Homo sapiens: one gene and its partners. The gene in region 1 interacts genetically with each later gene. Each region holds a gene or a part of one and is shown in the gene's direction. Other genes may lie near its edges.

Region 1 (3,458 bases):
CACAACCCTTGTGGATCTTCACCAATATTGGGTCATATATATTCAATGAATATCATACTCTGGGAAACAAAAAGCTGGTCCTTTCCCTTTTCAACTTTTTGGCCCCTGTAGGAAACCTTCTGGCGAATTCCAGCCAAGCTGAGTCCTACCCAGCTCCGGAGGGCAGCAGCTTCTTTGAGTCAACCAGAGGAGGAACAGAAGCTGCAGCCAGAGCTGCAGCCTAAAGTCCCTGGAGAGCAAGGCTCTGATGAGGAGCACTGTAAAGAGCACCGAGCACAAGCCCTGAGGGCCCTCTTGCTAGCCCACAAGAAGAAAGCGGGCCTGGCATCCCCAGAGGGTAATAGTGCGACAGCCATCTTCTGAGTATTAACGTGTCAGCCATGTTGGTCTAGAGGGCAGGAAAGGTGTTCTGAGAATATGAGGACCGAGTTCCTAATTTTGTGTCATTTATGGTCATTGCAGAGGAAGACGCTGTTGGTAAAGAGCCGCTGAAGGCAGCACCCAAGAAACGACAATTGCTGGACAGCGACGAGGAACAGGAAGAAGATGAGGGCAGGAACAGAGGTAGGGAATTTGATGGGACCTTCTTTTTCTTCTCTAATCCTGAAGACAAACTCTACCACGTCCTTACCCCTTAACATATTTAGATATTCTCTCTCTCTCTCACCCCCATCGTTCCCACAGCACCAGAGTTGGGAGCTCCAGGAATCCAAAAGAAGAAACGATACCAGATTGAGGATGATGAGGATGACTGAAGAGCTAAGAAGCCTAGGGGTAGAGATAGACACGTTTTTAGATGGTGCATTCAAGTCAGAGTTGGAAGGGTCATACAGGACCCAGAAGCTCCTCTTACTGGACAGAGCAGTAGAATCCCAGGCTCTTTCACGGATTTAGGCTGAGAAACTTCAGCAGCAGTATTGGACTTCTCTGCTGTCAGTCTTTGTTTCTCCCAGTTTTTATCGGTATGCCCCAGCAGCTCTCTGGAGATTTAGTTCTCTTCTTCTAGGAACCATTTCTTTTGGTTATTGGAGCTCCTTAGCAAATAAGAGGAGTGAGTGAAATAGAGAAAGCACCCCGGACCCCTTTTATTGGTCTGTTCCTTTGGCTTTCTCTTGGAGGTGGGTCGCAGCACCAGATGGGGAGCTTTATGACATGACAGGCGGGAGTTTTGTACCACTTTTAGAAGATACCAGATGCCTCTGTCCTCATTTTGTTTCCTATGATCATCCTCTAGATACCAGATAGAGGCCCATTCCTGCATTTGAGATAGGGTTGGAATATAGTACTCTAGATGATGAATGTGTTTGCTTTGTGTTTGGTATTAAACATGTAAGATTAGAAGTTCTCATCTCAGTCTGACTTGGCGATATGTCTAAGTTCCCCAGCCCTTCCCCTGCTGTGCTCTTGAAAGAAGAACTTAACAATTTTAGGGTAAAAAGAGACCAACAGACCGGCACAGTGGCTCAAACCTGTTGTCCTAGCACTTTGGGAGGCTGAGGCGGGCGGATCACCTGAGGTCAGGAGTTTGAGACCGGCCTGGACAATATGGCGAAATCCCATCTCCACTAAAAATACAAAAATTAGCCGGCCATGGTGGCATGCGCCTGTAATCCCAGCCACTCGGGTGGCTGAGGCAGGAGAATTGCCTGAACCCAGGAGGCAGAGGTTGCAGTGAGCTAAGGTCACGCCAGTGCATATGCCTGGGCGACAGAGCAAGACTCTGTCTCAAAAAAAAAGAAAAAAAAAAAAGACCAACAACCTTCCCTTTTCTTCCGCTTTCCCTACAGAAGACACAGAAAAGCATTTTTGCCTCTAGATCCTTTTGTCTAGGGTAAATTCTTAGGGTGACAAGAGTATGCGGCAGGAAGAAGGAGGAGCCATAAAGGAAGAGAAGCCAGCTTGTTGGCATGGGGCATAGAAAAGGACAAAATCTAGGCATGAAAAGGATGGATAAATACTGCAAATATTATGTTCTTACCCATTCTTGGAAACGTCAGCTTTCTTGCTTCCTGTGCTTCCAGCCGAGGTAGGGCAAAGGTGAGATTGAGAAAATAGCCATTCAGCTCAGGAAGGCTTCTAAGTAAAGGATGGATTTGGATTGCCCTGTTGCTTTGACTTTTCATTTTTATTTTTTCCTGAAAAGATGAGGATCTCCCATAGCCTCTAAAAGTGGGAGTGAAGCTATTTCCATGGTAATTGAAGTTTCCAAGGGCTAGACACTTTCTAGCTCTGGCCAGTCTTGGTGTCTCTTCATCCTGAGCTTTTCTTCACTTCGCAACCTGAGCACTGCTTCCTTCCAGCAGGGCTGCTCTGTTTTCCCTCCATGATCCGGGCTGTGCTGCTCCTTTGCTGTGTCCTGCTGTCCCCAGTATCTGCCTTTTTTTTTTTTTTTTTTTTTGGAGACGAAGTCTCGCTCTGTCACCCAGGCTGGAGTGTGGCAGCATGATCTCGGCTCGCTGCAGCCTCTGCCTGCCAGGTTCAAGTGATTCTCTTGCCTCGGCTTCCCAAGTAGCTGAAATTACAGGTACGAGCCACCACGCCCCGCAAATTTTTTGTATTTTTAGTAGAGACAGGATTTCACCACGTTGGCCAGGCTGGTCTTGAACTCCTGACCGAAGGTGATCCGCCTGCCTTGGCCTCCCAAAGTGCTGGGATTACAAGCGTGAGCCACCGTGCTCGGCCTAGCAGCTGCCTTTTTTTTTTTTTTTTTTCTTTTTTGTGATGGAATCTCACTCTGTCACCCGGGCTGGAGTGCAGTGGCGCAGTATCAGTTCACTGCAACCTCTGGCTCCTGGGTTCAAACAATTCTCCTGCCTCAGCCTCCTGAGTAGCTGGGATTACAAGCATGCACCACCACACCTGGCTAATTTTTGTATTTTTAGTAAAGATGGGGGTTCATCATGTTGACCAGGCTGGTCTGGAACTCCTGACCTCAAATGATCCTCCCACCTCAGCCTCCCAAAGTGCTTGAGCCACCGCATGAGCCGGTGGCGTGATTACAGGCATGAGCCACCGCATCCGGCCGTGGCTGCCTTTCTAAGAAATGTCCAGAACTGGACCCTGACTTTCCATCCCTCTTTGAAATTTCCAGCTCCAGTTTCTTCTAGCAGTGTTTATCAGTATAGAAAATTTACTATGTATTGGCCGGGCATGGTGGCTCACACCTGTAATCCCAGCACTTTGGGAGGCCGAGATGGGAGAATGACAAGGTCAGGAGATCGAGACACTGGCTAACACGGTGAAACCCCATCTCTACTAAAAATATAAAAAATAGCCAGGCATGGTGGCGGGCACCTGTAGCCCAGCTACTCAGGAGACTGAGGCAGGAGAATGGCGTGAACCCAAGAGGCAGAGGTTGCAGTGAGCTGAGATCGCACCACTGCACTCCAGCCTGGGTGACAGAGCGAGACTCCGTCTCAAAAAAAGAAAAAAAAAAAAGAAAATTTACTATTTATTAG
Region 2 (4,394 bases), on another chromosome or scaffold:
TTTCCTATTACAAGAACACTTTCTCCTTCCAAACCACAGAGCAGGCATCAAAATCAGTAAGTTAATATTTATCCAGTATTACCATATGTAGTCAGCTTGGACTACCAATAGCAAAATACCACAGACTGGTTGCTTAAACAACAGAAATACTTGTTTCTCAAAGTGCTGAAGGCTGGAAAGTCAAAGATCAATGTATCAACTGATTCACTTCCTGGTGAGGGGTCTCCCTGGCTTGTGACATCTACCATCTTGCTGTGGCCTTACATAGATTGGAGTAAATGAGCTCTTATGTCTCTTATAAGGACACCAATCCCATGAGATCAGGTTCCCACCCTTATGACCTCATTCAACCATAATTACTTCCTAATCCAAATACAGCTACATTGAGGGGTTAGGGCTTCAACATATGGATTTTGGGGGATATATATTAAATTCTTTACATCATGTTATTCATGGACTCTACATAAATTACCCCATTTGTCCCAATCATTTCCATTTTAGATCTAGGATTTAATCCAGGATTACTCGTTGATTTTAGTTGTCATGCCTCTTCAGTCTTCTTCAATCTGGAATAGTTGCCAGTCTTTTCTTGTCTTTTTCTTTCCTTTTTTATTTTTATTTTTATTTTTATTTTTGAGAGACAAGATCTTGCTGGGTTGCTCAGGCTGGTTTCAAACTCCTGGCCTTAGGTGGTCTTGGTCTCCCATAGTGCTGGGATTACAGGCATGAGCCACCGCACCCAGCCTTATCTTTCATGACTTTGACATTTTTGAGGAATACAGGCTGGTTACGTGATTAAATGTGCCTCAATATAGGTCTGTCTGATGTTTCCTCATGTTTGTGACCCCTTGACAGGAATATCTTAGAGGAGATGCTGTGCTTCAATCAGTGAGTCCTCTTAGGCATCACATGATCTCAATTTATTCCGTGGTTTCATGATGTTAACTTCTGTTTCTTTAAGATTGGGTCTGCCAGGTTTCTCTGTTACAAGGTGAATTAGCAAATATGTCACATTCATAAATTAATAGGCAATGTGTGTTTTGTGGGGAGAATCTTTGTGTTTTGTAGGGAGAAGCTTTGAGACTGTAAATATTCTGTTTCTCATCATATTTTCTCCTGCCAGATTTCTCCATTGATGCTTCTTGTTTGAATCTGTTATCACTGTGATGGATGCCAAATGACAATTTTCTAATGTTATCAGTCCTTCTAGATTTATTAGTTGGCATTTTACTGTAAGGTAGGGTTTTCCTTGCTATACCATATATTTCTTGTTTATTCGTTTACATCAATATAGACTCATGACTTCAAATTTTAATCAATTTATTACTATTATTTTTTAATTCTGATTTCAAATTTTCTTAGACTTAGCCAATAGAAGCCCCTTTATGACATGTTTCCATCATTCTTTCATCACTTCCTTATTTTCTGGCACTACAATGTGCCATGCTTATCTTGTATTTTCCTGACCTGCCTTGGAATCAGCCTTCTCTGCCACGAATTTTGGTTTCTTTAGTGGAAAGTGGCATTTAGAAAAAACTCTGAGCACTAGAAGTGTTCATTACTAGCCTCTCTCAGCAGAGACCCTAGAAAATTTTTGTGTATAAACAAGTGTGCATATGTGTGTTCAACAGCAGGAAATCTGGCTACCTTTATCTTCAGTGTATGTACTTACTTGCTCAATTCCCCCCATATGTAAGCAAATTACTGTGGCTGAAAGCTTGGCCCTAGAAAAGTGAATTCATCTCTGCCTGGTATGTCAGCCCAAAGCTGAGTATTAAATATGCTGCCCACTGGACACCATCCAAACACTCAGCAAGACAAAAGTGACGAGGAAGAAAGAAAGAGAAAAGTGTATTTAGGAAGTTCAGCTCCAGACATTTTAGAAAGGGTAGGAGGAAGGAGGAAAGGCCAGTTAGGAAGTTTGGTTCTAGACACATAGGCCCTTTCACCTACCCTTTTCCCAAGCTCAGCGCATGGATAGGGGAAGCAGGCTTAGAATGATGAGTTAACTTGTCCAAGCCTAATCGGTTGGGTAGTGGCAGAGCTGGAGTTTAAGCCTGGATTTTTTCTGACTCCTTACAACTTGCTATTTTTACTGCGTCTTGTAGAAAGCAGCTTTGCAACGGATGACAACAAAACAACAACAAAAACACTGAAGCCTTTCTTTTCTATATTAGGAAATATTTCTTTACTTTTGTCTCAGGTAAAAATCATCATTAACGTGGTTAGATGCCTATTTGTAAGATGGCATATTTGAAGTTATTTCTAAGCTAGAACAAACAGCTTAGACAGAGTTGAGCATAGTAGGATTGGGGTCAGAGACCGAGGTTATAACCTGGATACAAGGAGTTCTTATGATGATGAAAGGTCTGTCAATATGCATAGATACAATAACAATACAACATTGGGAGATGCTGAAATGAATATTTTTTTCTCTAAAGCTTTAAATGAATGCATAAGCCTGGGCTGCAATTTTTGTGAGTCTGAGTGTGCTTGTAATAATACATAAATTGTTACGATAACTAATGCCAAATAATGGATTATACCATGAATGGAATGAGAGCTCCTCAGGGCAGGGCTAATCCAACCCTGTTTTGTAGGTAGAGGTGTTAATTACACATTTTAAATATCAAGAGCTGGACTGACATTTCAGATTTGACACCTTTAATTTGCAACATTATTCTTCAGCAATAAACGTTAAACCTTGTAAACTCTTTCTGGTTAGCTATAATCATGTCCAATTTTATATATTAGGTAAAGTAAGTTATATAAGTTATTTTTCATATAAGCCATTTTGATATTCACATAATGTTTTCTTATCTGATTATTGATTTTTAGGCTTTCTATGGATTATAAAGATGTATTATTTTAAATTTTGGTATTTTTAATCCATAACATAAGTTAAGGAAATTGGGACTTCAGTCTTAATATGGTGGTCGTCACTGAACTGTATTTTCTAGTGGTTTTCCTGATAAAGCTCCTGAATCCATTTAACGATGTGAAATACCTAACAATAATTCTGACAATACTCACAACTGTTTATTTGGTAGCTATTTTTATCACAATACTTGTATCTAAAAGAATAAGAATAATGTATTTGAATAAATAGTAAGTACAAATATATGGTGTTTGCTTAAGAAAAGGCAGGGTAATCATTGTTTTCCAATTAGTGCACAATAATGCCCTGAAGTCGTCTCAGTCAGTTTTGATACCCTAGTTTCTTATTTTCTGGCAGTGGCCTCTGTGCCATCTTTTTGAGGAACTACTCCGTTTAAAAGCTCTTGATTAAGTTTATATGATTGACAGATAATGTGAAAGGAAAACAGAAATCATTTATCAATAGAAGGCATTTATTAATTCAAGTAATGTTTATCAAGATCAGGGCCAGCTTCATGAAAATATGACCTGTGCAGTCACACAAGGCCCTACTCTTAAAAGGGCCCCTCACTTATGATGTAGGACATGCAAGCCCCCAAATTGGGGCTTAGCCCAGGAGGGTTCTTGGCTTGGCCTAGAAAAGAATTCCAGGGCAAGCTGGTGGTGTTAAACAGCAACTTTTATTGAAGTGGCATTGTACAGTAAGCAGCAGAGAGACTGCTTCTTGCAGAAAGGGGCTACCCCATAGGCACTCTGCCCAGAATAGCAGCTTAGAGGCAGTTTTGCAAACTCATAGTTATACCCGCTTTTAATTATATGCAAATTAAGGGACAGTTTATGCAGAAATTTCTAGGATGAGTGTGGTAATTTCCAGTTCATAGGGTCATTGCCATGGAAAGGGGTGGTAAGATCTGTATGTTGCCATGGCGATAGTAAACTGATGTGGCACACTGGTGGCCATGTCTTCTGGAAAGGCTTCTATCCAGGAACTTTTTAGCTGATCCTCAGGTTCGTTCCAAGTCCTGATTCCTACCCCACTTAGATAAGCCCTGTGTTTGTTTAATGCTCTACTGTCAGCATCTTGAAATTATTTTTTGTTTTTGAGACGGAGTCTCACTCTGTCACCCAGGCTGGAGTGCAATGGCATGATCTCGGCTCACTGCAACCTCTGCCTCCCAGGTTCAAGTGATCTTCCTGCCTCAGCCTCCTGAGTAGTAGCTGGGATTACAGGCGCATACCACCATGCCCTGCTAAAAATTCTTAATAATTATTTAACATGGGGCCTTGCATTTTCATTTTGTATTGGGCCCTGCAATTTATGCAGCCAGTCCTGGTCAAGATGTAAATAGATATAAATATAGATAGAGATGCAGATACAGATATAGGCACAATATTATATCTCAAATGCACTGACAGACAGTCTCACATGATTCAGGCCAAAGCACAGTCTAATTACGTGATTTAATTATGTGATTAAAGGCAAAGGCAGAAAACTAGGGAAAGTACAAAAGTGGAGA
Region 3 (4,397 bases), on another chromosome or scaffold:
AATCCTAGCATTTTGGAAGGCTGAGGCAGGCGGATTGCCTGAGGTCTGGAGACGGAGACCAGCCTGGCCAACATGGCAAAACCCCATCTCTACCAAAAATACCAAAATTAGCCAGGTGTGGTGGCAGGCGCCTGTAATCCCAGCTACTCAGGTGGCTGAGGCAGAAGAATTGCTTGAATCCGGGAGGCGGAGGTTGCAATGAGACAAGATCATGCCACTGCACTCCAGCCTGGATGACAGAGCGAAACTTTGTCTCAAAAAAAAAAAAAAAAAAAAAAAAAAAAAAGGCCGGGCAAGGTGGCTCATGCCTGTAATCCCAGCTTTTTGGGAGGCTAAGGCAGGGGGATCACGAGGTCAAGAGATCCAGACCAGCCTGGCCAACATGGCGAAACCCCTTCTCTACCAAAAATACAAAAGTTACCTGGGCGTGGTGGTGCACACCTGTAGTCCCAGCTACTTAGGAGGCTGAGGCAGGATAATCGCTTGAACCCGAGAGGCGAAGGTTGCTGTGAGCAGAGATTGTGCCACTGCACTCCAGCCTGGCAACAGAGTGAGACTCCGTCTCAAAAAAAAAAAAAAAAAGTAACATTCAGATCTAATACTATGTGTCTTTCTTGAATTTTCATATGGACTATTGTGTCAACATATGGTGTTAAAAAAAAAGTTATTAACTAAGATATTAGTGAAGCCTTCCTCACATAAGAATATCAGGCTGCTGGCCAGGTGCGGTGGCTCACACCTGTAATCCCAGCACTTTGGGCAGCCTAGGCAGGTGGATCACTTGAGGTCAGGAGTTCGAGACCAGCCTGGCCAACATGGCAAAACGCTGTCTCTACTAAAAAATACAAAAATTAGATGGGTGTGGTGGCGCATGCCTGTAGTCCCAGCTATGTGGGAGGCTGAGGCAGGAGAATTGCTTAAACCCAGGAGGCGGAGGTTGCAGTGAGCCGAGATCGCACCACTGCACTCCATCCTGGGCGACAGAGCGAGACTCCATCTCTTTAAAAAAAAAAAAAAAAAAGGGAAGAATATCAGGCTGCTGAATTCAAAATGCCAGAGATGTAAATGCCCTCCGCCTTCTTACTGCCATCCCCCAGCATGGCACATTTCAAGATATTAAGGGATGGGAGTCAGGAGGAGCTGTAATTAAGCTGATTGGAACCTATTGTGCTGCTCTGGAGCACAGACACCAAGCAGCCTTAGGGAATGAGTGCCTCAAGATCACTGGGAAATGATGTCCTCTTTTCCAGAAAATAACGTAGCAGAAATACTCAATCTATACTATTTCTCCCTTTCTTTGTTTTCCATCTCCCCTCCCCAATTTAATTGTGGTGCTTACTGTGTACCTTTAAAACTGACTTTTATCATGCATTTGTTTCTTAACAGTTGCGAGAAAGAATCAAAGCTGGCAAAGGTGTGACTTCAGCTATTGACCTGTGTCGTTACCATGGAAACAAGGCACTGGAGGCCCTGGAGAGCTTTCCTCCCTCGGAGGCCAGATCTGCTTTAGAAAACATTGTGTTTGCTGTGACCAGATTTTCATGACATCAAATTAAAAAGACACTATTGTTAGTTAGCTGAAAATCCTAGGGAATGAGGTTGATTGGGAGCGCTTTCACGATGCGTTAATGACTTTTAAAACATATGCATTTTTCCTTCCTTTTATCACATTGCTAAATGAGTTCTGCTTTCTTTTTGGAACTGCTACAAACAAAATTAGAAGAAAAAAAGGTCAAGCAGTTTTCACTTGTCACGCCAGAAGCACACTTGAGGCTGCAGTCGCAGAAATAATTAATGAGATTCGCTCCTGTGACCTCAGCAAATGGACAGGAAATAAGTCCTTATTGATTGGACCGAGCCAGGGATGGCGCCAGGGCGGTGGCCTGTGGTTTTTCCTGCTAGAGAGGACAAAGCAAGTTGGAAGCTGCAGGTGTCAAGAGAAATGCTCTCAATACCAACCAGGGAGGATTGTCTAATCAAAAACTAGTGACCAATTTGTCATAATGGAGAGTAGTTCAATGGATTGAGAAAAATATGTTTTATTTGTTGGCTTGTAATTATGTCTCTGGATTATTATTATTTTTTTTTTAGATGTAGTTTTGCTCTTGTTGCCCAGGCTGGAGTGCAATGGTGCAGTTTTGACTCACTGCAACCTCCGCCTCCTGGGTTCAAGTGATTCTCCTGCCTCAGCCTCCCGAGTAGCTGGAATTACAGGCACCTGCCACCACGCCTGGCTAATTTTGTATTTTTAGTAGAGATGGGGTTTCACTATGTTGGTCAGGCTAGTCTCGAACTCCTGACCTCAGGTGATCCGCCTGCCTCGGCCTCCCAAAGTGCTGGGATTAGAGGCTTGAGCCACTGCACCTGGCCTCATGTCTCTGGATTTATAATGCAGTATGAATATACTTTGTGCTTTATGGTTTTTATAATGTCTTTTTGGAGAAATTGCCGAAAAGTTGCCAAATACTTGAAGTAGGAGATTAAAATGTTATCAAATGTTAAATTGGTTATATTAGGAATAGTCTGTTTTTCTTTCCTGAAGATCAGTTTTTTTATTCAAACACATTTCAAAGAACCAAATTTTTTTTTTCTTTAAGGAAAAAGGAGCTTTTTTTCAAGTGAAATGTATTCATTTGTAATACTTTGGTTTAAGGCATACTTTAATTTTTACGAGTTTCAGAAACAGAATTTTTGTACTAGGGAATTCATTGGTGAGAGTGTTCTTTTAACCTCAGAATGTCAAATTTTGGTCTTGAACCACAGACATCCAATTACAGAAAGAATATAAGCAATCTCACAGGCCTGCAATCGGACACTGTCTCTGTGTGGTTCATAGGAGATGATTTTTGAGGTTTGCACTCATGCAATTTGAGAACACCGTTGACAAGAAGGCTGAGTTTACATAAATGATCTAGATTGAAACTCAGCTACCTTTCTTCCTCATGTGGTGTAATTACAGCCCTATCTGGAGACAGCGAATACAGCAAACAGATTTTATTACCTAGTTCGCTCAAACACTACATGAAGTTATTTTAGTTAAAGCCCTCCCCCAAAAGTTATAAAACCATTTTATCAGGGCCCAACATGTGGCATGCAATGAAGAGAAAATGTAAAGCTACAGAGGTTAATGTATTGTATTATAAAATATTTTAAGTGTACTCAAAATATCATAATTGTACAGTTTATGCCACCATAATTTGAGGCCTATAGATTTAGCTTAAGAGAACACTGTTCTGTTTGAAATGCTTTCTGTCACTGAAATTGGCTTAATTAGTAACCATGGATAAGATGCTTTAGATCAGACTAGGTTTTAATCATTAACTTCCACAAAGAAGTCATACTTTGCGTTAGGTGTGCTGGTTGGATGTGCAGGAACTTCAGCAAGCAGTAGGTTTTACTAAGCAGATGGTCGGGCACTGCAGGGCACCAGGCAGGATCCTAGGGCGCCTCTTATTCTGCGTTAGCATCTGGTTTGCTGTATGACCTTGCACAAGTCACTTCCTTCTGAGCCTCAATTTTCTCATCTGTACAATGAGATTCAAAAGTTGACCTGAAAGTCAAGTGTGAAAAAAAAAAAGAGATTAAACAAGATAATTATGAAATTCTTTCCAGGTTTGTTTTATTTTCTGAAAGTTTACTATTCTTGACTGTCTAAATAGCAAAGATGCTGTGTGAGGTTCAGGGAGGAGGGAAGGTGAAACCCAAAGAGAGGCCCTGAAGGAATGGAGAGAGCTTAATGGCAAGCTTCCTGCCAAGCTGCCTCTGCATGACCTAAAGGATTCCAGCTCTCCTATGTGACATGTAACCCTGGACTTTTCTGTCTCAACACCTGCCTTGCTGCTTTCTTCGGGACCTTTCCTACCTCCCTGTCATCTTCCCAGCTGCTCTCGTGTCCTTTATCCCATCTCCTGTACCTTGCCATCCTGACTCCCTGGAACCTGGATCCCTGGGAGCAGTAGCCCCCTGCTGCCTGCTGAGTGACAGAGCTCTGCCTCCCCCACAGGGGTGGCTGGCCTCCTTCCTCAGGCCCCACTTAGCAGAATTCTCACTTCCTCAGCATCACGGCAGGCTTTTACAGAACATAACAAGTTGGCTAGTTCACTCCAAAATACAAGACCAATAGCCTTTCTCCCTGCCCCTTCTTCAGGGATATTTATTTCTTAGCACATATGAAGTTCTTATAGTTTCAGACAATCTCTAAGGAGAAATTTGGGGCACTGAAACATTCCTCAATCACACCTCTCAGCCTGCTGCTGCCTGGGTGTGGCTAATGGAGGCAGTAAGTAGAATTAATGGCTCTAGAATGTGTCCTTGGCCCCTCTCCAGCTTTCCCCATCCCCAGTTACCTGCTAGAGGGAAGAATTCATTCATTAGCAATTGTCCTGCTTTCCTCTGCC
Region 4 (4,394 bases), on another chromosome or scaffold:
AAATGTTTTATGCTGGTAGAAGAGCAGGCATCCTACTCTGAAAATTTTTCTGTAGGTGTGGTCCCTTGGCTTGCTAAATAGGGATCTAAAATAGTTTGTAGTAGTTTGATTTTTCCATCATTGTTAGTATTTTTTTTAATAGTATGAGTATTTTTTTTCATTTTCATAGGTTTGGGTTTTCTTTTTCCTTCGTGACTATCATAAAACATCTGTTATCCAAGCAAAATTTTTTGTTTCTTCGCAGAGATTACCAACACCAGTTTTCTTGTTTGGCTAAATCTCCTTTTTAGTAGTAGGATGTCAGGCGTATTTTAATTAAATTCTAGCCATTTCTTTCAGTGATTGTGAACTGTTTTTACCACCTTAGTAGTAATAATACCTTGGATTTATGGAATACTTTTCTATCAGAGAGTTCAAAGAGCTCATATCTATAATTTCTTTTATCCTGTTAACATTTCTATGAGGGAAGGGGTACAGTTTATTATTATCACTATCTTACAGAGGGAGAAGCTGAGGTGACTTGCTTTAATGCCGTAGCTACTGTTAACTGCCAGGACTTATCTGAGAGACTCATACTTGGATGTTCTATGAAATGGAGCTGAGAATTTGAGGGCTACTTTGTGTTTTGGATATCAACAATTACCTCTTTAATTTTTTTTTAAATATAAAAATACTGTTAAAACAGTGTAACTATCCAAAGTATGTGTGTAGTGAACTATTGGATTTTTGTCCTGTTCTATTGCTCCTTCTTACTCCAAGTTTATGTATTGTCTTGATATTTTGTATGTTTATATAAATGCGTGTTTTTTTTAAAACAAGTGTAAATGAAATCATACCTATACATACATGGTTTTGCAATTGTTTTTTTCACCTGCAATATAGATACTTTTTTTTTTTAAGAGATAGGGTCTCACCCTGTCACCCAGGTTGGAGTGCAGTGGCATGTAGCTCACTGTAACCTCGAACTCCTGGGTTCAAGTGATCTTCCTGCCTCAGCCTCCTGAGAAGCTAGGACTGTAGGGGTGTGCCACCAGGCCCACCTAATTTTTTTTTTTTTTTTTTTAATTTTGTAGAAATGAGGTCTTGCTATGTTGCCTGGACTGGTCTTGAACTACTGGCCTCAAGTGATCCTCCCACCTCGGCCTCCCAGAGTGCTGGGATTACCATGCTTGGCCTAGACACTTTTCAAAATGAACTCATAATCAAGGGTTGACAGACTTTTCTGGAAAGAGCAAGTTATTAAATTGTTTAGGCTTTGAGTGCAGTCATATGTTCTTGTCATATGTTCTTTTTTTTTTTTAAACAATCTTTTACAAATGTAAAAATCATTCTTAGCTTTCTAGCTATTAATAAATAGCTGAAGTGTGGGGCCATAGTTTGCTGACCCTTGATAGATATCTGTGTCATCTATTTGTAGGATTAGAGTTTTCAGTGGTGTGTGTATGTTCGTATGTTCTATTTTGCCTTAATGAACAGTGCTGGAATGAAGGGGGAACACTTAAAGTATCCTTATCTCTTACTTTCTCTGATATGTATATTTAGTCCTTAAAACAGCTTAAGCTTTCCCTCTGAAAGTAAGGTTATTCCTGTTGTTTCTTGGTGACTGATGGCGTTTCCCATCCACAGGGTCCTAACCTGATTATAAAACAACCAGATGAGTTGCTGGACAGCATGTCAGATTGGTGTAAGGAGCATCACGGGAAGGTAACATTACCAAATAACAGGATTGCTGCTTTGGGGATCAGTAGCAAGCTTTTTGCTCCCACACCTGAATCCGATACCATTGTTGGATGGTATTTTAAAAAGGCTTAGAGAAGATTGCATGGCAAGCCTGGGAAACTGCTTGCTTGTTTACTTTTCATCTTTGGGACCTCTCGAGATCATCTTCTCCTGAATGTCCTCTTTTTTTTCTCTCCTACATTCAGTCTGTCGCGAACGCATTGTGGATTGTCAAGTATTACTCAAGTCAGTCTTTTGGATAAGGTTAGACATCAACTTTCAGAGAAGGGGGATTGCTGCTCTCCTGTTAATAGTTGTTTCTTCCCAGAGGTTAATATCCTTGGACTTTGAACACCGTCTTTTTTGACTGTGGACATGCTATTAACAGTCAGGATCATAACTAAGTTGGCTTGGATTCTTGAAGAAAAAAAAATGGTGCAAAGATGGCAGTTGCAATTTGAACTTGAGCTCTAAAAATGGTCTATTTGTGGTTATATTTGCCCATTTTAAAAGTGAAATTTCATTTCTGGATGCCTTTGAAAACTGACTTTACATGTGTTTTTGGTGGGGGGCTGGGGATTCTCTCTTGCAGTCTGGCCTTACCAAGGCAGTGAAGGAGAGTACAATTACATTGCAGCAGGCAGAGTATGAATTTCTGTCCTTTGTACGACAGCAGACTCCTCCAGGGCTCTGTCCACTTGCAGGTAAAATCCAATCCTGTGTATATCTTATAGTCTTCCATATGTAGTGGTTCAAGAGACTGCAGTTCCAGAAAGACTAGCCGAGCCCATCCATGTCTTCCACTTAACCCTGCTTTGGGTTACACATCTTAACTTTTCTGTTCAAGTTTCTCTGTGTAGTTTATAGCATGAGTATTGGGAAAATGCCCTGAAACCTGACATGAGATCTGGGAAACACAAACTTACTCAATAAGAATTTCTCCCATATTTTTATGATGGAAAAATTTCACATGCACAGAGGAGTGGATTTAGTAATTGTTAACCTTGTGTCGTATTTGTTTTACCTATTTTTTGTTGGACATTTTAAAGGAAATTGCAGGCATCAGGACACTTCATTCCTAAATACTTCATCAAACATCTCCTAAGATAAAGACATTTTCTTATGTAATACAATGTCATTGCATTGAAGATAATTAAACATTATTCAGTATCATATGATATCTAGTCCACATTAGATGTTCCCCAAAATATTTGTTTTTGAACCAGGATTCAGTCAAGGCTCGTGCATTTCATTTAGTTATATTTCTTTAGTCTCTTAATGTAAAACTTTCCACCTATTATTTTTCCCCTGTGTCATTGACTTTCTAAAGAGACCAGGCCTGTTCTACCAGGATTTTTAAAAGGGTGACATTGCCAGAGGGAAGTTAATGTTTCTCTGAAGGTATATGTACGTTTGTATATGTAAGTCGATGTGGTAGCTAATACTGTTCTTAAACATTTATAAAAATAAGTTTTGGCATTAAGTACTAGAGCATATATTGTGTAAATGTTTCCGCCAGCCAATGTGGCTGATATCTGTTTTAAAGGTCTCATTTAAAATTTAGTGTTTTTAGTATAAGTTACTTTTTGGGGACATAAATATGCATATGATTTGTTTAAAAATTTGGATTGTAAATAAAGGTTTATCTACCTATGTGATTCAGTTAAATTTTTAGTGTTAGTGGTGTGAATTTTGTGACACTGGGAGAAAGTTTGCATATCAGGTATGACCTTAGAAAGTAACAAATAGATTTGTGCATTACATCAAGCATGTGGAATGATAGATTTGTCCTTCTGTTCATGAGAGGTCATTTACAAATTTATAAGGAGCTAAACTGACTAAGTACTTGGAAATCTGTACTTGTAAGCTAATCACATTTACCCAAACCTGATTTAGAAATATAGAGGTGCTTTTAGGAATTGTTTGAATTTTAAAAAATCATCTCCATTTCAAATACAACTTATGAATTTTGATATCCTGTTGTATAATACTAGAAATATAGAGATGCAGTATGCTTCGTGTCTTTCTAGGAAATTCAGTTCATGAAGATAAGAAGTTTCTTGACAAATACATGCCCCAGTTCATGAAACATCTTCATTATAGAATAATTGATGTGAGCACTGTTAAAGAACTGTGCAGGTAAGGGCTATATTTAGGATCCATTAAATTACCTCATTTAGCATGTTTTAATTGAGAATTTGTGGAAAGTAATTGGATAGAGCTGTAGAACTAAGGCTACCAAGTGGGTTCATATCTTCCTCATCCCATTCTTGCTTGTATAGGACCTTAACTTACCCTGGACTGGTGAGAATTGGGAGCAACAACGTCAGACATGTTCCCAGTAAATAAGCCAATGCCTGGCACAAAATAAGTGCTCAATACATTTTCTGGATTAACTAATATTATGTGGAAGTCTTGTGACTGGGAACATATAGATGAAAAGCTCTTAAGTACTTTAGAAAATAGTGGATCGACATATGTGTAAAAAAACGCACCCTGAAAATATACTCTATGATGACTCCTATAGTGAAAATGTGCGTATGGACTAGTGAGGTCACAAGGGAAGCAGCATCTAACTGTGCTGGAGCAAGAGGAATGGGGAGTCAGAGAAACCTTTACATAGCAAGGAAATAGCTTTGAAATTGAGATGTGAAGAAGAGTGGAAGTCTTGCAGG
Region 5 (4,217 bases), on another chromosome or scaffold:
AGACCCACAGAGCCCCTGTCCTGGATCTTCTTAAATTAATTGGGGTTTTCCTTTTACTTTTCATTTTTCAGAGACAAGGTCTCGCTCTGTCGCCCAGGCGAGAGTTGAGTGGCGCGATCAAGGCTCACTGTAGCCTCGACTTCCTGGGTTCAGGTGATCCTCCCACCTCAGCCTCCCTAGAAGCTGGGACTACAGGCGCTCACCATCACACCCAGCTATTTTATTTTTTGAGAAGGAGTCTCACTCTGTCACCAGGCTGGAGTGCAGTGGTGCGATCTCTGCTCACTGTGACCTCTGCCTCCCAGATTCAAGCGATTCTCCTGCCTCAGCTGCCCAAGTAGCTGGGATTACAGACGCGCGCCATCACGCCCAGCTAATTTTTGTATTTTTAAGGAGACAGGGTTTCACCATGTTGGCCAGGATGGTCTCAATCTCTTGACCTCATGATCCTCCCACCTCAGCCTCCCAAAGTGCTGGGATTACAGAAGTGAGCCACTGTGCCCAGCCACTTCTGAAAATTTTTTGTAGAGATGGGGTCTCACTGTGTTGCCCAGGCTAGTCTTGAACTCCTGGCCTCAAGCAATCCTCCTGCCTCACCTCCAGAAGGGCTAGGATTAAAGGCATGAGTGACTGCATGCTTTTTCTTTTTAATTTTTACAAAATTAAAGTTTTTTTATTATTTCTGTAGGTTATTGGGGAACAGGTGGTGTTTGGTTACATGAATAAGTTTTTTTGTTTTTTGAGACGGTGTCTTGCTCTCTTGCCAGGCTGGAGTGCAGTGGTGTGTTCTCAGGTCACTGCAACCTCTGCCTCCTGGGTTCAAGCAATTCCCCTGCCTCAGCCTCCCAAGTAGCTGGGATTACAGGCACCTACCACCACACCTGGCTAATTTTTTGTATTTTAGTAGAGACAGGGTTTCACGATGTTGGCCAAGATGGTCTTGATCTCCTGACCTCGTGATCCACCCACCTCAGCCTCCAAAAGTGCTGGGATTACAGGCGTGAGCCATCGTGCCCGGCCGTTTACATGAATAAGTTCTTTAGTGGTGACTTGTGAGATTTTGGTGCACCTAGCTTTTTCTAGGAAGTTCTAACCCTACAGGAGGTTGTGCAGTAGAAAACGGGTGTCATCCCAGCTCAGCTTCATTAGCCTCCCACCCTGTGTAGGGCCTGGCCTTTCCCCCACGCAGCCCCAGGGCCCTTGGCCTGCACCCCCAGCCTCTAGCAGCTGCTGGGACCCCCTAAACCCCCGGGCCCCCTTGTGGGCATTCGGGAGGCATCCAGACATGCAGCAGCATGTCCAGACCCGGCTTTCTATAGACGCTGACCTGGCGGCACCTGGCCTGGCTTCCTGGGAGCCTCGCGGCTGGGCTCTTCTGCTTGGGTTTCAGTGTTCGTGGTAGCCCCGCCTGTCTGGGCACGGCCGCGCTGTGCTTGGCTGGGGCTGCCACGGATTCCAGTGCCACTTAGCGCCCAGCAAAGGGGCTGCAGCTCTGGGTGCCGATTCCAGGGTCCCAGGTGATTGGCTGGAGGGGACTCGGGTCCGTCTAGACTCTATCCAGTCCCCTGTGGTGTAGGTGTGGGCCTCTTGACCCTCTGTCCGCCAGCGGGGACTGGAGAAGGCAGGTCTCGAGCAGGGTGCCTGCACTGGTCACCCCCGCCCAGTGTGTCACCAGCAGCTATGCACCAAGCTCCCTGTGGGCCCAGCATGGCACAGGGAACAGCAGCAGCCAGCCCCATTGCCCGCCTCGGGAAGCTGCCATCGCTGGATGGTCAGGGAGGGCTTCCTGGCGGAAGGGATGTTCTCACTGAGCATGGAGGATGCGAGGAATTCAGGAAGCGAATGGGACAGAGAAGGATGGGTAGCTGGCAGGAAGCACAGTGCGTGCAAAGGCCCAGAGGTGGCAGGGGTTCGGCATGGGCAGCAAGGGGCAGGGTTGCGAGGTGAGGCCAGACCCAGCGGGGTGGGTGGAAGTGGCCTGAGAGCAGCACTGAGGCCGCCGGGATGCCACGTGGTGTGGGGCAGAGCACGCGGAGTCAGGCTAGGCTCCAGCCTCCCAGCACCCCACTCCCGCCCTCAGCAGCCTCCCCGTCTATCGAGGAGGGACTTGAGCCTCGGGCCCCTGGGCCAGTGGTAGATGCCAGACAGACTCCATGTAGGATGGGGGGCGGCGGTGGGGAGCTGTTTGTCCTGGGGCGGGCCCAGGACTTCCCCAGGGGCCAGCAGGGTGGCCTTCTTTGCTAGGCTTCACAGAGGGAAACTAAGGCCCAGAAAGGGCAGGCCACTTGCCCACAGTCACACAGCCCAGGCTGGCAGAGAAGATCTGAATTCCAGAGAGCCTGGCTACCGAGCACACCCCCCAACCCCCTCATGGACTGCCCAAGGCCAGGGCAGAGTTGGGCCAGGTTGGTGGGCCGGGCCCACAACTAGGGTTCCCAGACCCACATATCAGACTCACCTGGGGAGGGGCATTCTCAGGGCCAGTCCTGGCCTCCCCCACGCTGGGGGCCTGGGCCTCCAGGTCAAGGCCTCAGCAACTGCATCTTAACGTGGCTCCCAACCTCCGCCCACCCCCTCCCCTCCGCTGTGGCCAGGGTGGGGACAACCTGAGACCAGGGAGGTGGCGGGACTGGATGGGACCCCTGTGGGGGAAGAGGAGGGGAGGGGGACCCCCCCATGGCAGGGGAGGAGGCCCTGATGGGGTGGAGGAGCACGTAGGAAATGTGGAACCGCCCCCCCATGCCCCCACCCCGCTGCAGGTGAGCGCCGCGAGGGGGTCAACGCCTCCGTCAGCTCTGATGTGCAGTCGGTGTTCAAGGGGAAGACATACAACCAGCTGCAGGTCATCTTCCAGGGCATCGAGGGCAAAATCCGCGCTGGTGGCCCCAACCTGGACATGGGCTACTGGGAGAGCCTCCTGCAGCAGCTTCGTGCCCACATGGCACGGGCCCGGTGAGCACTAGGTGCGGGTACCAGGGTTGGTGCCGTCCGGGTGGGATGGGTTTCGCCCCCTCCTGAGTCCTGGGTGGGGTGGGTCTCGCCTCCTCCTGGGACCATGTGGGGTGGAGAGGGGCAGGAAAGTGCCGACTGGCCGGGGCCAGCCTGTGAGTGACGAAGGGGGGCCGGGGGGCGCGTAGTCCCGTGCCCTAGCGGGAAGGCCCCAGGATGCTCCAGTGCCCTCACCTGGAGTCAGCCCTGTTGGTCTCACAGGGCTCCCCAGGAGCTTCCGCCCTTTAACGAGTACCTGGCGCGCTCCAGCAGCCATGGCATCACAGGAAGCCCCCAGGCGGCCTGCCTGTCCCCACTGCCTTGCGCCCAGGCCTGCGCCCTCCCAGCGCTGCTGCCTCCCGGCCTCTGGCTGTGTACAGATTTCTGGAGTGTTTTTGGCACCGCTGTGTAAATACATGTCTCCTCTGCTAATTTGTAAATGTCTCTAAATTTATCATGCTTGTTGGCTGGTGTCCTGCTGGGCCCCTTCTCCTGGCCAGCCCCAGCCACAAGACACTGAGACTGCAGCGTGAGACAGAGACCCACCTCTCCCTGCCATGGGATGGTTCACCAGGGTACCTGCGTCCTCTCGTCCTCTCTCCCATAAGCCTTGACCCTGAACTGACCAAGCCTGGGCAAAGGTCCCAGCCAGAGCCGTGGCTGCTCGCCACCTTCTCAGGGTCCTTGCAGCAATAAGGGGCGTGAGAATCTCGGTGGGGGTGGGGCGCGGAGCCCCTTCGCCTCCATGCGGGTGACCCCGGCTCTGCGTCCCAGGCTGCGTGAGCGCCACCAGGACGTGCTGCGGCAGAAGCTGTACAAACTGAAGCAGGAGCAGGGCGTGGAGAGCGAGCCGCTGTTCCCCATCCTCAAGCAGGAGCCCCAGTCCCCCAGCCGCAGGTAGGCCCGGCCGGCACCCCGGGGACGCCGATGCAGACGCGGAGCAGGATGGAGGGGCCGTGGGCAGCCTCCGCGCCTCCAACGCTCTCTCCTCCCAGCCTGGAGCCTGAGGACGCGGCGCCCACCCCGCCCGGGCCCTCCTCGGAGGGCGGCCCCGCGGAGGCCGAGGTGGACGGCGCGACCCCGACAGAGGGCGACGGCGACGGGGACGGTGAGGGCGAGGGCGAGGGCGAGGCGGTGCTCATGGAGGAGGACCTGATCCAGCAGAGCCTGGACGACTACGACGCCGGCAGGTACAGCCCGCGGCTGCTCACGGCGCACGAGCTGCCACT
Region 6 (4,394 bases), on another chromosome or scaffold:
CCGAAATAAATAGCTATAAGATACAAAGGTATAATGCTTGAGGCATGGTTTTAGACTGGTGAGTGAGTTTACAGCCTGAGTCATGCAAGTCATTGCTTCTTTTAGCAGGGTACAAGGACGTAAAGTTGGAGGGGCGGTAGGGGTCAGAGTCAGTGAGGGCTTGAGTACCAGGCAAGGGAGGTAAATTCCAGTTTCTGCTAATAACTTTTCCAGTTAATAAATACTTCGAGGATCTACGATTCATTTCAGCAGTGCCAAGCAAAATGTTAGACCTTGGGGATACAAAAAGAAGTAAAATTGGGTCCCTATCCTGAGGTTATTGACATTCTAGTAGAGGAGATGTCTGTGTGTGTGCAGGTGAACCATAATAAAGTACTGTGGGTTCTAAGGTAGAAGTCCCCAGGAGGTACCATAGAACACTGAGAAGGAAACACTGATGATGGTAGGTAATGAGTACTTACTCTGCTGGTGTGATGTTAAATGCTTTATCTCATTTTTTTCTCGTGTGAGAAGGTGTTATTAGCATCCTGATTTTACAGATGAGGAAACTGGGGCACAGAGACCTTGAATAACTTCCTTGAGTTTATGCTGCTGGTAGAGCTGTAAGATAGAGGGGATTATCTGCTGAACACTGAGATCGGCACTCTTCATTACTACACCATGTTGCTTGTTCTTTGTGATGTGGATGCGGACCCTCTGGAAAGGCTTCAGAGAGAAACTTGCCCTTGAGCTGTAGCTTCAGTGTGCCAGTCATTGTGAGACAGGAGGGATCACGAGGAATGGAAGTGGCCTTTGCACTAAAGGAGCTCATAGCCTTATCTGTTACTTTAAATGTTTTTCTTTTTTGGTGGGGGAGCTTGTTTTGCTTATTGACTTATACCTGAAGACTTCAGAAACTTTTGCAGTTGAGTGGATTTATATGATTCAGCCTAAGATAATTTGCTGGCAATCTGTTATTCTGATGTATAGGCCTTACTGTTACGGACGCAGTTGTAGATGTCAAATTATTATATGACAAGGACTTCTGTCACGTTACTTGTTTTTTTTTTTTTTTTTGAGACAGTCTTGCTCTATCACCCAGGGTGGAGTGCAGTGGCATGATCTTGGCTGACTGCAACCTCTGCCTCCTGGGTTCAAGAGATTCTCTTGCCTCAGCCTCCCAAGTAGCTGGGACTATAGGCAGGTGCCACCACGCCTGGCCAATTTTTGTGTTTTTAGTAGAAACGGGGTTTTGCTGTGTTGGCCAGGCTGGTCTCAAACTCCTGACCTCAAGTGATCTGCCTGCCTCGGGCTCTCAAAGTGCTGGGATTACAGGCGTGAGCCACCATTCGTGGCCACATTACGTTTTTTCCCTATGGGAGGTGCCCTGACTTGTTTCTGTGAGTTCGAAGTTTTTGTGAAGTTTTTTGACTCAGAAGTCAGCATATTTCAGCTTGTGTTAAATTTAAGAGGCTTAGTGGTTAAATATGTTACTTAAGAGTCACAGAGCTAATGTGTGATAGAGCCACAAAAAACTGGCCAAAAAAGAGTAAACAAATCTTCATTAAATTATTATTATTGTTCTGTTTGAGCATCTTCCTCAGTGGTCTCCAAGTCCGATGCCTGTTATGTACTAGGATGAGTAGGCTGGGCCTTGATGAACTGGAGAGCACGGGCCCAAACTAAAGGGAGCAGTTGCTGCTCAGCTCCACTTGCTTGTTGCCATGTGAGGAAGTGGGCCCAGTGTCCTTGGATCTTTTGACACTTTTTGGAAAAGATGCTGGAAATCTGGATTTTAATTTATTCTTATTTATTTATTTAACTTTTAGAGACAGGGTATCGTCCTATCAGGCTAGAGTGCAGTTTCGTGGTAATAGCTCACTACAGCCTTGAATTCTGGGCTCAAGTGATCCTCCCACCTCTGCCTCCCCAATAGCTAGGACTACAGGCGCATGCCACTATGTGTAGCTAGTTTTTTTTTTTTTTCTTTTTTTGAGACAAAGTCTCGCTCTTGTTGCCCAGGCTGGAGTGCAGTGGCATGACCTTGGCTCACTGCAATGTCCGCCTCCCGGGTTCAAGCGATTCTCTTGCCTCAGCCTCCTGAGTAGCTGGGACTACAGGTGCCCATCACCACGCCCAGCTAATTTTTGTATTTTTAGTAGAGACAGGGTTTTGCCGTGTTGGCCAGGCTGGTCTTGAACTCTTGACCTCAAGTGATCCGCCTGCTTCAGGCTCTCAAAGTGCTGGGATTACAGGGGTGAGCCATTGCATCCGGCCATGTACTAGCTAGTTGTTGCTTTTATTTTTTTTGTGGGAAGGAGTTTCGCTCTTGTTGCCCAGGCTGGAGTGCAATGGCGCGATCTTGACTCACTGCAACCTCCACCTCCTGGGTTCAAGCAATTCTCCTGCCTCAGCCTCCTGAGTAGCTGGGATTACAGGTATGCGCCACCACGCCTGGCTAATTTTGTATTTTTAGTAGAGGCGGGGTTTCTGCATGTTGGTCAGGCTGGTCTCGAACTCCCGACCTCAGGTGATCCACCTGCCTTGGCCTCCCAAAGTGCTGGGACTACAGGCGTGAGCCACTGCGCCCGGCCTAATTTTTAAAAAAATTTTGTAGAGATGGTGTCTATCTATGTTGCCTAGGCTGGTCTTGAACTCCTGCCTTCAAATGATACTCCTGCCATGGCCTCCCAAATTGTTGGGATTACAGGTGTGAGCCACTGCATGTCGTGGATTTTAATGTATTTAGTTTAAAAATTTGCCATTAAAAATTATGTTGATCAAAACATATTTGTGGGCTGAGTGTAATTCTAGGCTGCCTGATTGTGAACTCCAACCTACCTGGCTGCTGAAATTTTGGTACCTGTTGTTCAGAGCAGGAAGTATACAATACAATGTTTTGATTATTGATTAGAAATCTCATGGTAAATTGCCAGTGTGAGGGGGCATTGTAGCTTGCGCTGATAGTTTTGGAGAGTGGCAAGGTCAATGCTTTTATTGTATAATCAAGCTAAAGTATAGATCTGGCTGGTGAGATGACCTTATAACACTTCTATTTTGTGCTCTTAGCACTTTAAATGCTACCAGATTTCTTGTCTCTTGGCCCTCTCCACAATAGTATGAAGTGGTATGGTAAATTTGTTAAATGCTCTTGTATACCTTATTTTCTTTAGTCTTCATAGTCCTATGAGATAGGTAGTATTACAAAGGGGGTAATCATCACCTCTTGAGATGAAGAAATCGGCACCCAGTGAATCACAGTTTAGTGGAAAGAGCAGTTGACTAGAGAGGGTGTTGCATCCTGAATATGCGGATACCACTAACAGCCAGTGAATCACAGTTTAGTAGCAAGTGCAGTTGACTAGAGAGTGATTTGCATCCTGAATATGCGGATACCGCTAACAGCCTTTGGAGTTTGGTCACGTCACTTACAAATCCTCGGATCTTTTTTCCTTTTTGGATAAATAATGAGGAGTAAAATTCAAGTCTTGCTGAAATTCAATTCGTAATATCCTATACTTGAGTATACTTTTACTAATATACTTTTATTACTGATGCAAAGTATACTGAATGTGTAAAACTTCAAAAAAATAACATTTTCCAGTTCCCTGCGGACTCATTTTAAGGTACTGTGTTACAAATAAGTACCATTTCAGCAGAGAAATTGGTAGAAAATTGAAGGAATGGTTTTCTTTTCGGGATGCCAAGCTTTCTGTTTCTAATTGATATGCTTAAAGTCACACAACTGATTACTGGCAGACTCCAGTGGAGATGACTCAAATCTAAAATGCTGCCCCTCCTCTCTTGCTGGCAGGTCAGGAACCACTACTCAGCTCTTCATCTGTTCTTTATTCATTACTTCCTCTGGGAAAGGCCCTTGATGGGCCAGGTGCTCCCCCAGTGCATGCAGTGCCTATTGACTATATGTACTCAAGATTGAAAGGGGGCGTAGAGACACCCAGCACAGTGAGAGAAATATGGTCAGGGAGTTCCCAGCCCAAGAGTTTAATTTATTTTTATTTTAATACCCAGCTTTCACAAGGTGAAAATTGAAGAAATACTGGTCTTGTAGATACTTGTTTTCATTCATACTCTATTGTATAAGGAAATAACAGAATATAAAAATAAAGGGAATAAATCCTGAGCAGTCATTCAAAATTTATTAACTCTAGTTGGCAGCAGTCTAGATATATTGGGGAAATGGATTTAATATAGGCAACACAAAATTTGGACTGAAAGTAGAATACAGTTTTATGTAATTGAAAGTGAGAAAAATGGGAGAAACCACTTAAAAAACAAACCCGAAACTCTAGAAAGAACAAGAAGGTATTAGAATAACTATTGGAATTAAGTTATAGTAATTGCTTGTGAAATAAGTGGAATATTATGTCACATTTATGCCTAAATATAAGCAG
Region 7 (4,394 bases), on another chromosome or scaffold:
GTTGCACAACTCTCACCACAGTCCAGTTTTAGAACATTCCCATCACCACAGAGTTCCCTTGTGCCCATCACACTTAATCCCTGCTCCCACTCCCGGCCCAAGGCAGCCACGGAATGGCGTCTTGTCTCCATAAATGTGCCTTCTCTAGACACTTGATAGAAGAGTGGGTGGCACTGGCCATGGTGAGGCAGGAGTCTCAGTAGGCCAAGGGCAGCTCACCAGGGAGGCCTTCATTTACAGTATATAACATTAAGCAAGAGGCTTTATAAAGTGCTGTATGCATTATTTATTCTTGGTTTTTGTTGTTGCTGGGTGTTTTTTTTGTTTGTTTTTTGTGACAGAGTCTTACCCTGTCACCCAGACTAGGGTGCAGTGGCATGATCTCAGCTCACTGCAACCTCTACCTCCCAGGTTCAAGTGATTCTACCACCTCAGCCTCCCGAGTAGTTGGGACTACAGGCGCATGCCACCATGCCTGGCTAATTTTTGTATTTTTTGGTAGAGACAGGGTTTCACCATGTTGGCCAGGCTGGTCTTGAACCCCTGACCTCAAGTGATCTGCCCACCTCGGCCTCCCAAAGTGCCGGGATTACAGGTGTGAGCCACCATACCTGGCCTCTTTATTCTGATTGTTAATCTAAATGGAGAAAGGGGTGTTTGTTTTATTCTTTCAATTTTCTGTGTGTTTAAATATTTTGTAATGAAAAGGGGAAAAATACATGTTGTTTTTGGAATCAGCAGGAATGAGAGGAATACTTCAATTCTGGAGTACAAAAGAATCCAAGAGGTTTTTTTGGACCTAGTGGGCAGCATGGCTCCTGCCTTCAGGCACACTGTGTTCCCGAACCATATGTAGAGAAGAAACTCTGCCTCTGCCTGCCCTCGGCTTATCAGACCTAGACTGAAAGCATTAGTTATGGGATAAATGAGGTGTGCTAAAAACTTACTAGTACTCTTGAAGCGATTAGAAAGGTGTTACGCTAAGAACATCCTTAGTCATCATTAGATAATCAGAGGGAAAATGTAAAGACATGAAAAGTGGGGCGAACCTCTTGTTAACTCAGATGGGTACAGTCGGCCCTCCATATCATGGGTTCCACTTCCGTGGATTCACCCAACCTTGGATTGAAGATATTTTGGGAGAAAAATTGCATGTGTACCAAACGGGGACTTTATTTTCTTATATTAAACAATATAACAACTATTTACATAGCATTTGCATTGCATTAGGTATTATAAGTAGCCTAGAGATGACTTAAAGTATATGGGAGGGCCTACGTAGACTATATATAAATACTGCACCATTTTATATCAGGGACTCGACCATCTGCCGATTTTGGTATCCACCAGAGGTCCTGGAACCAGCCCCCTGTGGATACTGAGGGATTACTGTATATTCTACCTCAGCTAAAAAACTGGTAACTAAGCATGAACTAACTTCATTTTCTCTCTTCCTGGAAGGGTTATTTTGGAAAAGGTATTCTTTCAAGAAGCCGTCCAAGCTTCACAATTTCAGATCCTAAACTGGTTGCTAAATGGAAAGGTAAAGTTGTTGTATCATTCAGTTCTTTTGACAAATTAATCATTTTCCTTTGTTTTTGATCTTATATCTCAGGCTATATAGTAAAATTCTAGAGAAGTAACATGTACACTGGCAGTTTTACTGCCAAAGTTAGCTAGAATAATTCTAATCAAAGCAAAAGGGTTATGATTGGGTGACAGTGTGTTTAATTTCTAGAATTATCAAGTGTTAATTGGGCTTTTCTGTTGTTAAGTGTTTGCTTAGCAGAGTACTATGCCTATGGCAGGTACTGGTAGTTAAGTACCTGCTCACCTGTGGCACTATGCAAAATTTTTAAAATTTTGTTTCCAGAATTAGAATTTGTAATAGCCATGACATGTATGTGTGTGGTTCTCCCTTGCTGATTCTCTTTAATTTATAAATGTTTTAGAATATTTATCTAAGGAATTCTCATGGTAATTACTTAAGAACCAATACCAGCATGTTAAAACATAATTAGAAAGGATCTTTTAAAGGTTTTATTGTAAGAAAATATACAGATTAAAACTGCACTGAGATAACATGTCAACAATCAGGCAGAAATCCAAAAGTCTGACAATATACTGCATTGGTGAGGACTTCAGAAACAGACCTTCTCTTGCATTGCTGGTGGGGTGCTTGTGGTACCACCCTCATGGAGGTGAATTTGGCAATGTCTAGCAAAATTACCTATGCATTTACTTTGTTTTCTTTTCCCCCATTCCTCTCTTTCCTCAGTCCCTGGTAACCTTTATATGTTTTCTGTCTATGAATTTACCTATTATAGATATTTCATATATAAATAACAATCATACAATATTTGCCCTTTTGTGTCTGTTGCTTTCACTTAGCATATTTTCGAGGTTTGTCCCTGCCATAGTGTCTATCAGAACTTCATTCCGTTTTATAGTGGAATAATATTCCATTGTTTGGACATAGTGCCTTTAGCTCATCTGCTGATGGACACTTAGATTGTTTCTGTATTTTGGCTTTTCTGAATAATACTGTTGTGAATATTTGCATACACGTATCTGAGTCTATTTTTAGTTGTTTTGGATATATACCCAGGAGTAGAATTAATGGGTCATATGATAATTGTCTGTTTAACATTTTAAGAACTAGCTAAACTATTTTCCACATTGACCGCATCATTGTACATTCCCACCAGCAATGCACCAAAGGTTCCAATTTCTCTACATCCTTGCCAACACTTGTTTAAAAAAATAATAGTCGGCCAGGCGCGGTAGCTCACGCCTGTAATCCCAGCACTTTGGGAGGCCGAGGCGGGCAGATCATGAGGTCAGGAGTTCGAGACTAGCCTGACCAAGATGGTGAAACCCCATCTCTACTAAAAATACAAAAATTAGCCGGGCATGGTGCTGTGCACCTGTAATCCCAGCTACTCAGGAGGCTGAGGCAGGAGAATCACTTGAACCCGAGAGGCAGAGGTTGCAGTGAGCCGAGATTGCACCACTGCACTCCAGCCTGGGCGACAGAGCAAGACTCCGTTTCTAAATAAATAAATAAATAACAGAGCAAGACTCCATTTCTAAATAAATAAATAAAATAAAATAGTCATCCTAATGAGTATTAAATGGTAAAAGTTTTTCATTTTAATGAAGTCCAATTTATCTATTTTTTCTACTATTGCCTGTGCTTTTGGTATCTATTTAAGAAACCGTTGCCAAGTCCAAATCATGCAGATTTCCCTGGTGTTTTCTTTTAAGAGGTTTATAGTTTGAACTCTTAAGTTTAGGTCTTTGGTCCATTTTGTGTTAATTTTCGTATACTGTGTAAAGTAAGGGTCCAGCTTCATTGTTTTGCCTGTGGATATCCAGTTGTCCCAGTATATGCGTTTACTTTTGATCCAGCAATCTCACTTCTAGGAATTTATCTTAACAATACGCTGACAAAAATATGAAAAGAAATAGCACAGGGCTATTCATGCAACACTGTAATATCCAAAGACTGGGAACAACTTACATGTTCATCAGGAGAGGACCTGTGGAATAATCCATATTTATATAATTAATCCATATAATGAAGGACCGTGGAGCTGAGACAGGAATGGGAGATCGCTAGGATATGCTGGTAAGCGAAGACAGCACAGTATAAAGGAAAGTACATGCTGTGCTGTGGTTTATCTAAAAAGATGGAAATATAAAATAGATATTTTATTATATTTTTTGAGACAAGAGTCTCACTCACTCTGTCATCCAGGCTGGAGTACAGTTGTGCAATCTCCGATCTCAGCTCACTGCATCCTCCACTTCCTGGGTTCAAGCGATTCTCCTGCCTCAGCCTCCTGGGTGAGTAGCTGGGATTACAGGTGTATCCCACCATGCCCGGCTAATTTTTGTATTTTTAGTAGAGACAGAGTTTCGCCATGTTGAGCAGGCTGGTCTCAAACTCCTGACCTCAAGTGATCTGCCTGCCTTGGCCTCCCAAAGTGCTGGGATTACAGGCATGAGCCACTACGCCTGACCAATTTTTTTTAAATGGAAGGATAAAGCATAGTTTTTTAAAAATTCCAGTAGGAAGGGATGAAACAGGATGCAGAGAGAGGTGAGACTTTATAGATTTGACTTTGTAACCATATAAATGTATTACATAATTATAAAAAAAGTTTGGCTGGGCATGGTGGCTCACACCTGTAATCCCAGCACTTTGGGAGGCTGAGGCAGGCAGATCACCTGAGGTCAGGAGTTCAAGACCAGCCTGGCCAACATGGCGAAATCCTGTCTCTACCAAAAATACAAAAATGAGCTGGGCATGGTGGCAGGCACTTGTAATCCCAGCTACTTGGGAGGCTGAGGCAGGAGAATCGCTTGAACCCTGGAGGCGGAGGTTGCAG

Evidence for each region.
Region 2: changes in TIMELESS (region 1) and STXBP4 together harm fitness more than expected from each alone (negative genetic interaction), as found in Homo sapiens cells (one large-scale study listed by BioGRID).
Region 3: changes in TIMELESS (region 1) and PDSS2 together harm fitness more than expected from each alone (negative genetic interaction), as found in Homo sapiens cells (one large-scale study listed by BioGRID).
Region 4: changes in TIMELESS (region 1) and REXO2 together harm fitness more than expected from each alone (negative genetic interaction), as found in Homo sapiens cells (one large-scale study listed by BioGRID).
Region 5: changes in TIMELESS (region 1) and CACTIN together harm fitness more than expected from each alone (negative genetic interaction), as found in Homo sapiens cells (one large-scale study listed by BioGRID).
Region 6: changes in TIMELESS (region 1) and MAPKAP1 together harm fitness more than expected from each alone (negative genetic interaction), as found in Homo sapiens cells (one large-scale study listed by BioGRID).
Region 7: changes in TIMELESS (region 1) and TSEN2 together harm fitness more than expected from each alone (negative genetic interaction), as found in Homo sapiens cells (one large-scale study listed by BioGRID).

What each region holds. Positions count from the first base shown.
Region 1 is NC_000012.12:56,415,013-56,418,470, reverse strand, and holds the end of TIMELESS (protein timeless homolog), read left to right. Parts: intron 1-111; coding exon 112-337; intron 338-462; coding exon 463-564; intron 565-684; coding exon 685-755; 3' UTR 756-2,108; downstream 2,109-3,458. UniProt on the Homo sapiens protein: Plays an important role in the control of DNA replication, maintenance of replication fork stability, maintenance of genome stability throughout normal DNA replication, DNA repair and in the regulation of the circadian clock.
Region 2 is NC_000017.11:54,971,178-54,975,571, forward strand, and holds part of STXBP4 (syntaxin-binding protein 4), read left to right. Parts: intron 1-4,394. UniProt on the Homo sapiens protein: Plays a role in the translocation of transport vesicles from the cytoplasm to the plasma membrane. Inhibits the translocation of SLC2A4 from intracellular vesicles to the plasma membrane by STX4A binding and preventing the interaction between STX4A and VAMP2.
Region 3 is NC_000006.12:107,151,767-107,156,163, reverse strand, and holds the end of PDSS2 (all trans-polyprenyl-diphosphate synthase PDSS2), read left to right. Parts: intron 1-1,386; coding exon 1,387-1,545; 3' UTR 1,546-3,602; downstream 3,603-4,397. UniProt on the Homo sapiens protein: Heterotetrameric enzyme that catalyzes the condensation of farnesyl diphosphate (FPP), which acts as a primer, and isopentenyl diphosphate (IPP) to produce prenyl diphosphates of varying chain lengths and participates in the determination of the side chain of ubiquinone.
Region 4 is NC_000011.10:114,442,230-114,446,623, forward strand, and holds part of REXO2 (oligoribonuclease, mitochondrial precursor), read left to right. Parts: intron 1-1,626; coding exon 1,627-1,704; intron 1,705-2,311; coding exon 2,312-2,423; intron 2,424-3,749; coding exon 3,750-3,858; intron 3,859-4,394. UniProt on the Homo sapiens protein: 3'-to-5'exoribonuclease that preferentially degrades DNA and RNA oligonucleotides composed of only two nucleotides. Binds and degrades longer oligonucleotides with a lower affinity.
Region 5 is NC_000019.10:3,613,132-3,617,348, reverse strand, and holds part of CACTIN (splicing factor Cactin), read left to right. Parts: exon of another isoform or gene 1-2,753; intron 2,754-2,759; coding exon 2,760-2,952; coding exon of another isoform or gene 2,953-2,956; exon of another isoform or gene 2,957-2,963; intron 2,964-3,418; exon of another isoform or gene 3,419-3,762; coding exon 3,763-3,885; exon of another isoform or gene 3,886-3,983; coding exon 3,984-4,217. UniProt on the Homo sapiens protein: Plays a role in pre-mRNA splicing by facilitating excision of a subset of introns. Required for the splicing of CDCA5/Sororin, a regulator of sister chromatid cohesion. Involved in the regulation of innate immune response.
Region 6 is NC_000009.12:125,700,432-125,704,825, reverse strand, and holds part of MAPKAP1 (target of rapamycin complex 2 subunit MAPKAP1), read left to right. Parts: intron 1-4,394. UniProt on the Homo sapiens protein: Component of the mechanistic target of rapamycin complex 2 (mTORC2), which transduces signals from growth factors to pathways involved in proliferation, cytoskeletal organization, lipogenesis and anabolic output.
Region 7 is NC_000003.12:12,490,675-12,495,068, forward strand, and holds part of TSEN2 (tRNA-splicing endonuclease subunit Sen2), read left to right. Parts: intron 1-1,461; coding exon 1,462-1,543; intron 1,544-1,554; exon of another isoform or gene 1,555-3,631; intron 3,632-4,394.